Linked DNA regions of Homo sapiens: region 1 is linked to region 2. A link means that fine-mapping ties the variant in region 2 to the expression of a gene that starts in the linked region. Tissue or cell type: tibial artery. Region 2 holds a variant in brackets; the other region holds the start of a gene. All regions are shown on one strand. Distances are from middle to middle.

Region 1 (8,108 bases), 33 kb after region 2:
AAGCCATGCTTGACCAGCTCCTTGAAAATGCTTTCTGGACCAAAACTAAAGCTGAAGCAACAAAAAAGAAAAATAACTCAAAGTTAATTTTATCATCTTCATTTTGATTAAATAACAATATTTTGGAACTTCCTTAAGAACAGAGATTGTTTTTTAAGAAATGTTCAGAAAGTAGGATTTATACATAAATATCAAAAATATTGAGTGGGCATAAAGTTAAAACAGTTCAAACAAATCTTCCATCATAATTAAAAATAGTTTGCCAGGTGGTTTTCTTATTATCCATTTAACCTTCCCTCCTCATCACACTTTACCATTTTACCATGAAGAAGCTGAGGTTAACTAAATTGCCATGGTAAGGGTTTGAGTTCCCACCATCTATCTACATGGTTTCACACCAGCAAAATAGAGAGATCATGCAGGTTTTAATAGTTTTAAGGTGTTATAAAAACATATAATTTTGAGGTGTTCATTATAAACAAATCTACTGGGCTCTGTAACATATCAGAGATGTGATGAGTGATTCCTATGTCATCTTAAGTGGAAAAGATGTAGTTAAATGGCTGCAAGGAAACTGCAAATCTTCATAAACAATCTCCCTGTTAAATTGTGATGGGCATTCTAGTATGTAATTTTACCTCCTTGTACGGAAAATCTTTTGGATTGAGTAGCAGGCCATGCTAGGTATGACCAGTTGTTTCTTCATTTCTTATGAGAAAAGAACTCCATTATCACATAGGGAATCCTATCCGGGTCGTTTGGATGGGGCTGTCCCTTCTGTCCCCTGCCAGAGGAAAGCGTCTGTGGCCTAGGCTTGGCCCATTTGAGGGAACCATCCCTTTCCAGGTACACTGAAGCTCAAGCATATGTGCATAAAAGACATCAACCAATCAGCAGCCCATCATCCAGAACTATGAGGGAAGACTATTCTGCTGAAGTTGTTAAGCAGTATGGTGTGGGGCTGGGGCGCAGGTAGCTCTCTTGGGTGCCACAGAGAGAGTCCATGCTTGGAGGATGGAGAGAGACTGAGATTGATGGCATTAGTTGCAACATGGATTCCATGGTGCCAGAAGCCATCTACCACTTTGTGGGTAAATACATCTTCTCCCCCGTCACCTTATTTTGGTATAAGCTAGTTAGCTAAGTTTCCAACATTTGCAATGAAAAGATTCCATCTTACTACAAAAGTTGAAACTATGCACCATTTTTCTCCATCGCAAGCCTGCTCCCTCACCTACATTCTCTACGGCAGTGAGCTCTCTCTCCTTTAAATGTGTCTCTCTAGGCACCACAACATCTCCATCGCCTGCTTCCATCCAACACCAATGCCCCCTCCTGCTCAGGCTCCTTTGCTGACTCCCCATTTCAAGAAGCCTATGTTGGGTGCCCAGGGCTAGGTCCTCAAGACTCTTTTCTGTCCTCACACACTCCCCTGGTGTCTCGCCCTATCCCATGACCCTCGACCCTCAGCCCAACTCTCACTCTGTCACCCAGGCTGGAGTGTAGTGGCACAATCTCGGCTCACTGCAACCTCCACCTCCTGGGTTCAAGCGATTCTCCTGCCTCAGCCTCCCGAGTAGCTGGGATTACAGGTGCCCACCACCACACCTGGCTAATTTTTGTATTTTTAGTAAAGACAGGGTTTCACCATGTTGGCCAGGCTGATCTTGAACTCTTGACCTCAGGTGATCCACCCGCCTCAGCCTCCCAAAGTGTTGGGACTACAGGCGTGAGCCACCGGGCCAGGCCTCCTTTGCCTTTTAATCTGTTTATAACATGCGGTGGACTAGGGAACCAACTGAGGCTGCCTCAGAGTCATCCACTTGGACTTTGCTGCACGGCTTGGTGACACTCACCTTAGCTGCTATTTATGGCTTGTTTTATTATTATCGGCCATATTCCGATTAGGTGCGGTGTCATCATACTGCATATGTATATGTGTCATCTATGGAATAGGGCAAGATGCTCCTACATAGGTAATGATTAGACTGAATCAATGCCACTTGATTTGTGAAAATAAGGATTTCCCAATCAGGGACTTCAATGTTGCCTCTGTTAGCACCCATCTCTAACGGAGAATTAATTAGCAGCTACAGTGATGAATTCAGTAGGTCCATGGGTCGGTTTCCTGTGGACTGCCTCCCTCCCAGCTAAAGCCCTGAAGTGCTGGGGAGAGGGCAGCACCCTGTATAGTGTCCTTCACAATCAACTGCTAAGACTGACCAAGAGCTCACCCCACTGCAGGAAATCACACAAGTGTAGCCCTTGGGTCCTGGGTTCCTTGTAAATTGAGCAGCATATAGGATCCTCCACATACAAGCACACCTGTACTTTTCCCCAGCATGACCCTGGGCCACCTTAGTCACATCTAACCATCTACCAAGGTAGTGGAATAGAGCAGAATGTCTTGACTTGAGGTCCATGTTCGGGGTCTGAATACTCGGAAATTACATGAAAATCTGTGGGAATCTGTGTGTGTTCAGGTCATTTAACTCTCAAAGGGGGGCTGTGCGACAAGGAAGGATCATTAGAAAGAGGAATGGAGGAAGACAAGCTTGGTACAGTGGAATGTAGGGTTTGAGGTGGGGAAATCCGTTGTGATCCTCCCTTCCCTGTATCATTATTTACACAAACTAGTTGGATATAAATATGGATATGCTACCTACCTAGTTTTTACCTCAGTTTCTGCATCTGTGAACTGGCAATAGCAATGGTGCCCACTTCATGGGACTGTGTGAAAAGGAAATGAGATATGATCCTTGTAAAACATTTAGCAAAGTCCTTCAATATAGGCTCCTTATGAATACACCAAACTTTTGCGGGTTTCAGCTCACCCACAAGTGTAAGCGATAGTTTACATGTTGGGGGTTCTCTACTGTGCTTTCCACTTTTTAGTCTCCAGAAAAATCTGGAGAAGAGAGGAGTGGAGGGGGTAGAGATGTAACGTCAAAGGAAAAGCCATGTGTCATGCTCACCTCTTAGTCTTCCGGGCGATCAGAAGCCAGGGATCTCTGGGCACCTATGTGCCTGGGCCTGCTGGGGCGACCGGGGAGGCCCCTGCTCTCGTCCTCTGACGCTCAGCGCTGGCCCAGCCGCGACCTTGGGCTCCCGGAGCCCGGCGGAGGCGCCCAGGCGTGAATGATGTCCCTTGGGTAGGGCTGGTGAGCTGGCGCGCGGGACAGCAGGGCTGGGTGTATGTGTCCATGGGCCCCGGGTCCCCGGAAGGCGAGCGCGCGGGCAGGTGAGCGCAGGGGGCGGGGTGGAAGCCGGAGGGACCGGGCTGATTGTGAGCTTCCGCCACGCAGGGCGCGGCTGCCGGGGCAACCGCAGCGTGCGCGGTGGGGCGGTGCTCGCCTCCGCCTCCGCCTCCGCCTCCGCCTCCGCCTCCGCCTCCGCCTCCGCCTCCGCCCCCGCCCCCGCCTCCGCCTCCGCCCCTCGCGCCTGGCTTCGACGCCAGGTGGCCGGCCTGGGCGGGATGGGGTAGCTGCGCTGGGTGTTCCAGGGCGGAGCGCAGAATGCTGCTGTCTTGAGGATTCCGCCCTTCTCTCATTCTCTTCTCCCACCTCCTGCCCTGGGTCAGAACGTAATTTAGTTATAAAATTAAAGCTGCATATGGCAATTAAAAAATGAAGTAAAATATACAATAAATATTTAGTTTACAAAGTACAATTAAATGAAAAATACAATAAATTACACAATAAAGCGAAAGTGAACCTACTCTCAACTGCCACAGATTCTTGCAAATCTTCCCAGAAATTTTCTTTCCATACTCTAGGATGCATATATGCTTAAAAAATATTTATACACAAATGGAAGCAAATATGGAGATCACTTTATTTCAGGGCCTACAAATGCACCATAACACCCCTCTCTCTCCCTCCACACATGCTTTTTGGCGGAAAATTCTGAAAGCTTTGGTTTGATTATGTGAATGTAAAACATATATATGTGTGTCTATATATATATGCTTTTTAATGCAGTATGTAATTGCTTCCAATTAAAAACAGTAATTCCTTACACCAGCCTACCCTATTCTACTCAGAGACTGTTTAAAAATGTTAAGAGCGAAGACATGGAATCAACCTAAGTGCTCATCAATGATAGACTGGCTAAAGATAATGCGGTACATATACACCATGGAATACTATGCAACCATATAAAGGAACAAAATTATGTCTTTTGCAGGAATATGGAGCTGGAGGCAATTATCCTTGGCAAGCTAACGCAGAAACAGAAAACCCAATACTGCATGTTCTCACTTATGAGTGAGAGCTAAGTGATGAGAACACATGGACACATAGAGGGGAACAGCACACACTGGGGCCTATTGGAGGGTAGAAGGTGGAGAGTGGGAGGAGGGAGAGGATCAAGAGAAATAACTAATGGGTACTAATCTTAATACCTGGGTGAGAAAATAATTTGTGCAACAAAACCACATGACACAAGTTTACCTATATAACAAATCTGCACATGTACCCCTGAACTTAAACGTCAAATAAAAAATAATAAAAATGTTATTAAGGACTATTTCATGCACACCAAAATATACTGTATGATATATGGAAAGTACATACCATACCATACCATAGCTAAAGAAATACCATAGCTAAAGAAAAAGAAAGCTAGGAAAAATAAAGGAAAAAGGAAAAGGAAAAAAAAGTCTGCCTCTACTGCTGTACTTATATGTATTTCTTCCCAACACTGCATCCTCCTCTTCCTGTTCCCAGAGATAATACCTGTTCTGAATTTTACATTTATCATCCCAGCCTCTTAAAAATGCATTGCTACATTGAATGCCTCCCTAAATAATGCATGTTTAATATTGCATATTTTGAGAATTTATAAAAATGTGGTAGAATGTTGTGTATTGTTTTGATGACTTTTTTCCTTTCAACGTCTTGTTTTTGAAATGTATCTTTGTTGGTATGTTTAATTGGAGTTCCTTTATCTAAACAGCTGTAGGCTATTCCATTATATTACCATTCCACACCCCTTTCAAATCAATTCCACTATTGATAGACATTTGGGATGTTTCCAGAATTTGCTACTAAAAGCAATACTACTAAGATCATGTTTATAAATGTCTTTGGACGCACACGTTCAAGAGTTTCACTAGAGTATATGTCTAGGAGTTAAATTTCTGGGTCATAGGTTATTTATAACATCAAGATAAAGACAACTTGTTTTCCCGACATATACAGCAATTTAGACTCCCATCAGCAGTGTGTATCTTAGCCAAAACTTGGTTTTGTCACACAAAAAACTTTCTGCCAATCTTGGTATCAATGCTCTTTTATAATTTACTTTACGTGACCTGATTACTAATTATTAATCTGTAAGTTTGATTCCTTAGAGATATTTGAGTGTAAATTTATTGTCAAACTGTGTCCAAAATTGGTGGGTTCTTGGTCTCACTGACTTCAAGAATGAAGCCAGGGACCCTCGCGGTGAGTGTTACAGCTCTTAATGTGGCGCATCTGGAGTTTGTTCCTTCTGATGTTCGGATGTGTTCGGAGTTTCTTCCTTCTGGTGGGTTCGTGGTCTCGCTGGCTCAGGAGTGAAGCTGCAGACCTTCACGGTGAGTGTTACAGCTCTTAAGGCGGCGCTTCTGGAGTTGTTGGTTCCTCCTGGTGGGCTCGTGGTCTCGCTGGCTTCAGGAGTGAAGCTGCAGACCTTCGCAGTGAGTGTTACAGCTCATAAAAGCAGTGTGGACCCCAAGAGTGAGCAGCAGCAAGATTTATTGCAAACAGTGAAAGAACAAACCTTCCACAGTGTGGAAGGGAACCCAAGCGGGTTGCCACTGCTGGCTCAGGCAGCCTGCTTTTATGCTCTTATCTGGCCCCACCCACATCCTGCTGATTGGTAGAGCCGAGTCCTCTGTTTTGACAGGGCGCTGATTGGTGCGTTTACAATCCCTGAGCTACACCCAAAGGTTCTCCATGTCCCCACCAGATTAGCTGGCTACAGAGTGTGGACACAAAGGTTCTCCAAAGCCCCACCAGAGTAGCTAGATACAGAGTGTGGCTTGGTGCGTTCACAAACACTAAGCTAGACACAGGGTGCTGATTGGTGTGTTTACAAACCTTGAGCTAGATACGGAGTGCCGATTGGTGTATTTACAATCCCTGAGCTAGACATAAAGGTTCTCCACGTCCCCACCAGACTCAGGAGCCCAGCTGGCTTCCCCCAGTGAATCCCGCACGAGAGCTGCAGGTGGAGCTGCCTGCCAGTCCCGCGCCGTGCGCCCGCACTCCTCAGCTCTTGGGTGGTCGATGGGACTGGGCGCCGTGGAGCAGGGGGTGGTGCTCATCGGGGAGGCTCGGGCGCACGGGAGCCCATGGAGGGGGTGGGAGCTCAGGCATGGCGGGCTGCAGGTCCCGAGCACCCCCCGCGCGAAGGCAGCTAAGGCCCGGTGAGAAATTGAGCGCAGCGCCTGTGAGCTGGCACTGCTGGGGGACGGAGTACACCCTCCGCAGCTGCTGGCCCGGGTGCTAAGCCTCTCATTGCCTGGGGCTGGAAGGGCTGGCCGGCTGCTCCGAGTGCGGGGCCCGCCAAGCCCACGCCCACCCAGAACTCCAGCTGGCCCGCAAACGCCGTGCGCAGCCCCGGTTGCCGCTCGCGCCTCTCCCTCCACACCTCCCTGCAAGCTGAGGGAGCCGGCTCCGGCCTTGGCCAGCCCAGAAAGGGGCTCCCACAGTGCAGTGGTGGGCTGAAGGGCTCCTCAAGTGCCGCCAAAGTGGGAGCCCAGGCAGAGGAGGCGCCTGGAGCCAGCGAGGGCTGTGAGGACTGCCAGCACGCTGTCACCTCTCAAAGCTACCCTATTCACTCTCAACTACTTACCACATAACTCTCAGATTATTTTAACAGAACCAGGGCACCGTTTCTTGAACTACTGTTTCTCAGTGTAGGCAAAGCCTCACATTTGAGTTTTTTTTGACATAATGGAGCCTAGAAGTCACTCAGGTTCCTTGGGTCTCAGTTGTAAAATCAGAATAGTATGAACTGCCCTCACAAGCCGTAAAAGAAGTATGCATAACAATGACATAAGCTCCATCTTGGCTCTGTGGTTGATTCTTGGGGAATACTTCTGTGGATAAACAGTTCCAACTATGTATTATAGGTCATCAATAGATCTTTCCAATGATAATCTTCCCCATGTTTGGAGACAAAGTTGGTATCAGTAACAACCTTGTTTCTGTTCTGGAGAAAGTTCCTGAAATTATTTGAGAATCTGGTAGATTTTGGAGGAAACACATCTAGAAGACTGAAAGGAGTAGATTAATAATGTGTGAACTCTGCTTGGGTCATATCAGAACTACTGGCGCAAATATTTTGAATAGAAGTTGGGTAAGCATTTGCTGTTTGATTGAGACCTTGGAGATAAGCATGTGGTCCGATTCACTCTCCTAACTTTGTTTTAGGGAATTTTTTTTTTTTTTCCCTGAAGGGGTACTGAGTTTCATGAAATAATCTTTGATTTTATAATCAGGTAACTGAATAGTAGAACAATAGATAAACACATTTAATTTCAATCTTTTTAACCTAGGGAGGCTACTAAAGTCGTTATTGCTGAACTATTTAAATAACAGCTTCATGCTAATGAGGGGACAGGCAGGGCATGGGTAAAGTTTTGGAAATCCCAGATTCATAATTAAACACAACCTTTCTCCTCTTTCACCAGAGGAGAACTGAGAACACTGCAGAGCCTTCTTAACTTGAACTTTATCATTTTTGCCCTGAGCTATCTGGCAGTAGAGTTGTCAGAATTTGGACAACACAAAGGAAAAATGGGAGGAAGGGGTATTAAATATTCCTACTGCTCAAAACATAGCTAGTTGGGAGGTGACAGAAAAGTACACGTTGTTCTTGCCAATGACTTACGATACAAACTGATACACTGGCTAAATTCTCTAATAACCTAACTTGTGCTTCTATCTTTGTCTGGTATTAAACCAATTTTTATCTTTAAATTACAACTATTCAAAGGGCTTGCAAATTTAATACTTCTTACATAGTCCTAGGCATTCTGCAAAATGCTTGGCAAATTAAATGTGATTCTATTGAATAACCTCACATATTTTTATAAAAATTTTTCTTAAAATCCAATA
Region 2 (8,108 bases):
TCATTATTTATTGAAAAGGAGATTAGATATGTTTTCAGCCATTATGAGTTTACTTTTGTGAGCACAGTAATGTTCAGTTCTTGGAGGTTCTTGCAGATCACCTATTATCATAAACCAAAAATATGATTTACAAACGATGGCCAATAATTTGCATGTATAATTAAATGTCAGGGTAAATATTTCTAACGGTAACTTGAATCATTCAATTCTGGGCTTGAAAATTAAATCCTGAAAGCTACGCAAATGCTTGGGCAGAGAAATCCGGTAATGCTTACTTGAAATATAGAAACCTATATTTAGTACTTCATAGTGTGCCAGATAGTATAACAATTGCCTAGTGTCTATTATCCCATTAAGTTCTGATATGGTATGGATCTGTGTCCCCACCCAAATCTCATGTCAAATCATGCATGTCCCCACCCAAATCACCATGTCCCCAGTGTTGGAGAAGGGGCCTGGTGGGAGGTGAGTGGATCATGGGGACAAAGTTATCGTGAATGGTTTAGCATCGTCCGCTGCTTGATACTGTATAGTGAGTGAATTCTCATGAGAGCTGGTTGTTTAAAAGTGTGTGGCACCTCCCCACCCTCTCTCTTCTTCCTACTCTGGCCGTGAAGTGCCTCGCTGCCCCTTTGCCTTCTGCCATAATTGGAAGCTTTCTGAAGTCTCCCCTGAGCCAGAAGTTGCTATGCTTCCTGTATAGCCTGCAGAACTGTGAGCCAATTAAACCTCTTTTGTTTATAAATTACCCAGTCTCAGGTATTTTTAATAGCAGTGTAAGAATGGATGAATACAAGTTCTAATCACAAACCTATGAAGTAAGTCTGTTAGTGAGGCTGGTCAATAACCTAAAGTCCCAGTTGCTTATAACCCACCATGTCCATTGATGGGCAACTCTGCATCCTACTCCATATTTCCTAGGCTGACAGAGCGGCCGGCAGCAGAGGGGAGGATTGCTCAGAGAGCCTCACACTTGCAATCAAAAGCTCCAGCCTGGAAATGGCAAACCTCACTTCCATGCATAGCTCATTCGTCAGAACTAGTCACCTGACACCACCTAACTACAAGGGAATGGGGCAGAGAGTATAATCCTACCGTGTGTCCAAAGTGGAGAGAGCAGGAAATATTTGGTGAATAGTGCTAATCACTACTGTAGTGTGTCCCTATTTTATACATGAGAAAACAGAATCTGAGAGGTCAAACAACTTGCCAAGTCACAAAGCTAGTAAGCAGAAGAGCTAAGATGCTGTTAAAGAACAAAGCATGGATTTAACAAGTTTTTACAGCAAATTCTAAGCCTACTAATTCTGTGTCACTTAGAAAGACACAGGAAAATTAGAGATTGAACAGAGACTAGCAGATGTCTCTTGATCTCACATTTGTGAAATCTGAAATCCTTTGGCTATACTTCCAGCTGCCTACTTGAAAAGCTAGAGACTAAAAATATTGACTTTCTATTATCAGAGCTGAGTCCTTCATAAAATTGTTATGGCCCTAGGAGTTCTTGAGGATAATTTATGGATGATACAGAGCAATGTGACTTGTAATCACTTGGGAGATGCTATCAGCAATGTGAAAACCAATTGAACTTGGAAAGAAATCCACACTCCTTACTCTTCCCTGCGAGTTCCTCGATATCTGGCCCCGTCCTCTTCGTCAACCTTGTCCTAAGCTGGCTTCCCCTTGCTACCACCATCTTTGTGCAAGCTTTTCTGGTTTTCTTCCTGCTCTTCACCAAGCCAGGCTCTTTCTGGCCTCAGAGTTGTGGCAGGTATTTCCCCCTCATGTGTAGATTGCCTCCCCACGCCACTATAGAGTATCCCTTTTGAAAATTATGTGGAAATTTTTATATAATGTTTTATATTTAATTTTTGTGGATATATGGTAGTTGCATCATGGGGTACATGAGATGTTTAGATACAGGTATGCAATGTGTAATCACATCATGGAAAATGGGCTATCCATCACCCCAAGCGTCTGTCTTTTCTGGTATAAACAATCCAATTACAGTTATTTTTAAATTTACAATTAAATTACTATTGACTACAGTCACCCTATTGTGCTATCAAATACCAGGCCTTATTCATTCATTCTAATTATTGTTCGTACTCATTAACCTTTTCTACCCTGTCTCCCATTTCCCCACTACCCTTCCCAGCCTCTGGTAACCATCCTTCTACTCTCTATCTCCTTGGGTTCCATTGTTTTGATTTTTAGATCGTACAAATAGGTGACAACATGCAATGTTTGTCTTTTCTTGCCTGGCTTATTTCTCTTAATATAATGACCTCCAGTTCCACCCATGTTGCTGCAAATGACAGGGTCTCATTCTTTTTTATGGCTGAATAGTACTCCATTGTGTATAAGTACCACATTTTCTTTATCCATTCATCTCTTGATGGACACTTAGGTTGCTTCTGAATCTTGGCTATTGTGAACAGAGCTGCAACAAACATGGAAGTGCAGATATCCCTTCAATATATTGATTTCCTTTACTTTGGGTATATACCCAGCAGTGGGCTTGCTAGATCATATGGTAGCTATTTTTTTAGTTTCTTGAGGAACCTCCAAACTGTTCTCCATAGTTCATATTGAAATTTAACTGTCAATATAGTTCTATCAGGCAGTGGGGCTTTTAAGAGGTTAGTCATGAGGGCTCTGTCCTTATGAATGGGTTAATGCTGTTATCTTGGCAGTAGGCTAGTTATCTTGGGAGTTTGGCCTACTTTTTCTCTCTGTCTCACTTGCTTGTTTGCCCTTCCACCATGTTATGGTGCAACAAGAAGGCTCTCACCAGATGCAGCCCCTTGACCTTGGACTTCCCAGTCTCCAGAACTATGAACCAAATAAATGTCTATTGTTTATAAATTACACAGTTTGTGGTATTCTGTTATAGTAGCAGAAAACAGGCTAAAACACCTTTCCTCCCCTTAATCTGACAACTTCTACTCATTTTTTAGGTCTCATAGTAGACATTTCTTCAGAGAGGCACTCCCTGACTCTCAAACTAAAACTCCACCCAGTACTTTTCCATGGTAACATGCATCCCAATTTATAATAATATAGCTGTGTTTATTTAATTGCTATCTCCCTATTATGGTGGCAGGAACCAAGGGAGCAGTGAGTGCTGCGTGTAGCATTATACACCAGTGCCAAAGAGGCCAACTGGAAAATAGTAGATCCTTAGTATTTATTGAATGAAATGAATAAATGAATGACTTTTAGTCTTTAAGTAAGGATTTCAAGTGAGTTCCTAAAGTCTGAATTTGTGTTTCTCTTCTTTTAAGCTTTATCAATAATTCCATGTTAGTAATAATGAAGTGGAGACGGAAAAACCAGAAACAACCAGAAAAATTTAGATAAAAATGAAAACATTTATCCTCTCTTTTCTGGTTTTTGTTTTGTTTTCCAAAAGCCCAAAAAGAGTTAACATCTTTGGACTATTGATTTTTAGAATGAAGTATAAAGGATTTAAGAACATTTTGCTGCATTGGAGATGATTTTTACAAGTAGAAAGGATAATATAGAAAACCGCCAAGCGAATTACTGCACTTGAATCGATACATATGTTTTCTTTTTTCCTGTCAGACATTTCTTACCAAACGGTTTAAATAATATCATCTGTTCTTGTTTTTTGTGCATTCCTACTCACACATATCAAATGAAGAAAAGCCAAAGGCTTTATGAAGCACTGGAAAGAATTTTGTTGCCAACCAGTTCATGCTACTGCAATTCTGTGGGTCCATGACACAGAGGAAAATATAAGGCTATGTACTGATTTACATCACAGAACACATGGTACATCCAGGAATGAGCACCACAAGGGTAATTTTAATGCTGCAGAACACATTTATCTGCTGATATATGGTCTAGGAATACGCTGCTTTTATTCTGCCAATTCTGACTCCCACTATTCCCTCTAAAAATGGAAAAAACTCTTGCAAGGTCATTTGGAAAGAATGTTTAAAA[T/A]TACTTTTTCTTTGCTTATTTGCAATCCCTTCACTTCTTAAGAATGATTGGCAGTGTTTATGTATCCTGAAGCCTGGGGCAGAGTTAAGATTCAAACAGGAGACTAATGGAGTAAAGGAGTCCCTCTCCTAGTGGGCAGAAATTATAAGCAGCCATTTAGGTTACTTATACACCTGGGATAGCTACAAACAGCTATGTTCCCAGTGGCAAAAGGAAAGGCTAATACAGTCCAGCAGAAAAAAAATAGAAACCATTCTAAAGAACAGAGGCAGGAACTCAGGAGTACAATAGTCAGGGATGAATTAGTATAAGATAAACTCTCCACATAAAGAGGCACTGAGAAAGTACATACGTGATTTTCAGTTGTGCACAAATTTTAAAATAATTCAAGTTTATATTATGTTATAATCCCATCAATGTGGCCAGAAAATATGTGGTATATTTTGGAATGTTCAGTCATGACAGTTATGGTGTCAAATAATTAAATATTATTCAAATAATTGCACAGGTGAAGATATAGTTGCAACTGCGGTAAGTGCCGTGAAGGAAGGTGCATTGTGATCTATGAATGTATATAGGAAGAGAATTTAACTTCGTGAGGAAGGTGAGGAAGTCTGCCCTAACAAAGAGATGATTTCTCTGAGATGAAAAAGGAATGGAAAATTAAGCAGATGAGGTATTGGGGAAGAGGAGGGAGAATGAATTCCTGGACAAGGAGGATACAGTTTATGCAAAAACTTAATGGAAGGTGGGAGCATGTACATAAAATAAAATAACAGACTGTCTACAGCAGAGTGTTTAAAGGCCTGATCTGGGGGAGGAGTAAGTATGCTCAGACCGCTCAGGTGATCATAGGCCATGTTCACATACATTTTCTTATATTATTAAGAAAATCAGTAATTTTGAAAGTATTTTAATTAGATGGTAGGTAGAGTACTGAAGTAATCACTTTTCATCCTTGAAAAGACTTGTCTGGCATCAATGTATAGATAGACTGCAGGACAGAAGGAGATAAAAGAACAGATCAGAATATTTCTTACAGTTTTCTGGGTAAGATGATAAGGTAGACTACGGCGGTAAGGGTGGAGATAGTAGGAGGAAGAGTCACAAGAATTTATGAGATTAAATGGAGTTGAATTGGGGTGGGTGGGTGCTTGGGGAAGCAAGTCATGATGATATCTGGGAGTTTGGCTTTCATAGCAGAATGTTGGTGGTTCCATTACTGAACTAGAAAACACTCGAAGTAAACTAGACTTAAGGATGGGCAGTAGAGGTCTAAAGTTTGATTTGGGAATTGTTGAGTTTCAGGAGCGTTTGTAAATTCAAGAACTGATGTCAAGTATAATTAGATATGTTTCTGTAGGCTTAGATGAAATAACTACGCTTAAGACACAAATGTGGGAGTCATTCCAAGGAGAGAGTGCAAATGAGCTTGCCTAGGGAGAGCTCGTAGTGTGAGATGAAGGTTTGAAACTGAGTCTTGAGAAATTCCGACATTTAATGGTCAGGCGGAGGTTGTAGTAGCCACTTTTTTGGTTTGTTTTCTTCTCCATCTTTCTCTTCTTTCTTTATTCCTTTCTTTTCTTCCCCTCTCTTTTTTCTTCTTTTTCTTTCTTCCTTCCTGTCTCCTTTTTCCTTCCTCCCTTCATTTTTCTTCCTTCCTTCCTTTCTTTCTCTCTCTTTCTCTTTCTCTTTCTCTCTTTCCTTCTCTTTCTTTCTCTTTCCTTCTCTTTCTCTTTCTCTCTTTCCTCTTTCTTTCTCTTTCTCTTTCTTTCTCTTTCTTTCTTTCTTTTTTTTCTTTCCTTTTCCCCTTCCTCTTCCCTTCCCTTTTCTTTCTGCCTTTCCAGCATCCCTAACTCTTTTTTTGGGGAAGAATAATCCCTACTTTTTCTTGGGAGCCCACACCTATACAAGTAGCAGTCTGGTGTTTTGGGTAGAGTGACTCATTCCCTGAGTCATGGGCTGACAAAATGATCTGGCCAATCAGAATCTTGTGTCCTGTTGTATAATGACTGGTGTGGAGAAAGACCCTTGACTCAAGCCTGACCATTGAGAGTGCGATCAGGGTTTTCACAGGACCAGCTGGGAAAGAGTACCTCATTTCACTTGGAGTTCTAGGATGTAACCCTGGAGCTTCTGGTGGACATCTTTGCTACATTCTAGCTAAGGTTGGAGCTCACACAGACTAAAGCCAAGTAGAGAGAGCAAGGGAGCCAGACAGTGAGAATGTCAGCAAGCAAGGAAGAGAGAAATGGTTTTCAGGGAAGATGTTTTGCCTCCAGTCTTGCTCAATCCACCCCTTGAAATTCTGTATTAAGAATTCTCTTTTTCTAAGTCTTAATAATTCTCTTGTTATTGTCTGCTGGTGTTGAGAGTCCTGATGCAAAAAGCATGGCTACAAAGGATATTGAGAAGCACCAGGAAACTGTGGTGTTGCTAAAGTCAAGAAAATTTCTAGGACAAGGGACGAATCAGCAGAATCAAATGGAAATCCATCACTTTCCAAATCCATATGGTTGTCTTACAAATCTCTCCAGGATGTGGCTTTGGCCTCTTTTCCCTGACCATTTTTTATTTATTTCTTGTCACATTGCTTTTATTTCACTTGCTGGAATGGGTCTGCACTGCAAAATGCTGCTGCTTCTACTCAATTCCTCTCTTCCCTCTGGGTCAACTTAATTCCTCACTCATTCTTTAGAGTTCAGCTAAAATACCATTTCATTAGTGAAAATTTCCCCTATTCTGTAGCACCACTATAAGTTCATATGTTGTATAAGGTAGCGTTACCTTGCAGCTATCCTGGGGTAGCCCTCTGTTTGTCTCCTGGGATGCTTGAAGTCTGGTCAAGGTAAGAATGAAATGTGCTACTGAGGACTTTATAATGTGCAATGTGCTATTTAAAGCTCGAAATTCCCCTGGAGGCAGCCTGTATTAGCTTGTCTACATTGTTTAGGACTGTATAGACTGATAGTTTGTACCTGGTCTAACAGGGTATACAGCCTGGGTTTAGCTACATGGCTGGTGGGTATGAAAGACCCCTCAATAAATTATATACCTGGACTCACACTTACGGTGATCGTATATAATCTGAAGATAAAATGTGTCCTGTACCGAGTGATTAAAATGGACCCTGGGGGGCTGTGCCTGGAAGCCCTAGACCCCTCTGTGATCATCTGTGCTCTGTGTCCTAATGTATCCTTCACCTGTATTAAAACCTTACTCAAATACACACTGTGAAATCTTGTGAGTCTTTTGATAATCTTCAATTATTCAATCTTGTGCAATCATCTCATAAGTATTTTAGGATTATTCTATGAAAATATGCTTTTCCTACGAAACTATAAACTCCATGAGGGCAGGGGCTATTCCTGGTTTTGCATTCCATTTTATCCAGACATGCCATTGTGCTTGATACGTGATTAATCAGGATCCACATGGGAAAGCAGAAACAACTCTGAGTTCCTACAGAATGGAAGTTAATGGGAGGATTTGGTTGCACAAGCAATAGAAGAGGCTGAGGAAACAACCAGAGCACAGTGAGGCAGCCCTGAGACTAACAACAAAAGAAGCTGGTACCACCCTTGGAGGCTTAAGGGACAGAGGGAGTGGGTAGTACTACCAGAGCCTAGGGGCCAGGGTCACATGAGGGAGGCTAGGACCACAGCAGGATACACAGCTCCCCACACAGTGGGGAGTGGAGTCATGGGGGAGACAGACACAGCTGTTGACGGGGATGCCGACAAAGGCAAAGATGGAAAGGGGGAACTACCTGGCTTTTCCTCTCCTCCCTCTCTCATCTTTTGTTGTCTCCTGTTGTCTGGATCCTACTGGAAGCCAAATAATGCAGAAACCTGGGACATGCAAACTGGATGAATTGCTCTCCTGTCATGCACCATGAAGAGAGCAAGGAACAGACCTAGGATTTTCATTATCGGTGCTCAATAAATATATGCTGAATGAATAAAACCAAATTGTATGTAGAACAAGGGCTGCTGATAGATTCAGCATTCTGGCAGTAGCAACCTTGGACATCATGAAAAGTCTCAATCTCTAACTGAGACGCATGTGTTATATGGACCAGAGGTCTGCAGAGTCTGAACACACAAGGTCTGCCTAGGTACTCTCATTCCATGATTTTC

The links. PIP is the estimated chance that this variant, and not a neighbour inherited with it, causes the effect.
Region 1: ANKEF1 starts here. The variant in region 2 is fine-mapped to the expression of ANKEF1 in tibial artery (GTEx, PIP above 0.99). The same link has a PIP of 0.9 or more in aorta and coronary artery.

The regions. Positions count from the first base shown.
Region 1 is chr20:10,030,201-10,038,308 of GRCh38, reverse strand. It overlaps ANKEF1 (ankyrin repeat and EF-hand domain containing 1), which reads right to left and starts at 3,322. Exons shown (of 11, transcript NM_022096.6): 1 at 2,976-3,322; 2 at 2,667-2,730; 3 at 1-51. The coding sequence starts at 7. All of the region lies in intron 3 of SNAP25-AS1 (SNAP25 antisense RNA 1), which reads left to right. RefSeq lists a silencer at 2,982-3,531.
Region 2 is chr20:10,063,178-10,071,285 of GRCh38, reverse strand. The region is part of intron 3 of SNAP25-AS1 (SNAP25 antisense RNA 1); the gene reads left to right. Among named protein-coding and RNA genes, the nearest start is that of ANKEF1, 32 kb to the right of the region's middle. The variant T/A (reference allele first, on the strand shown) is at 3,970.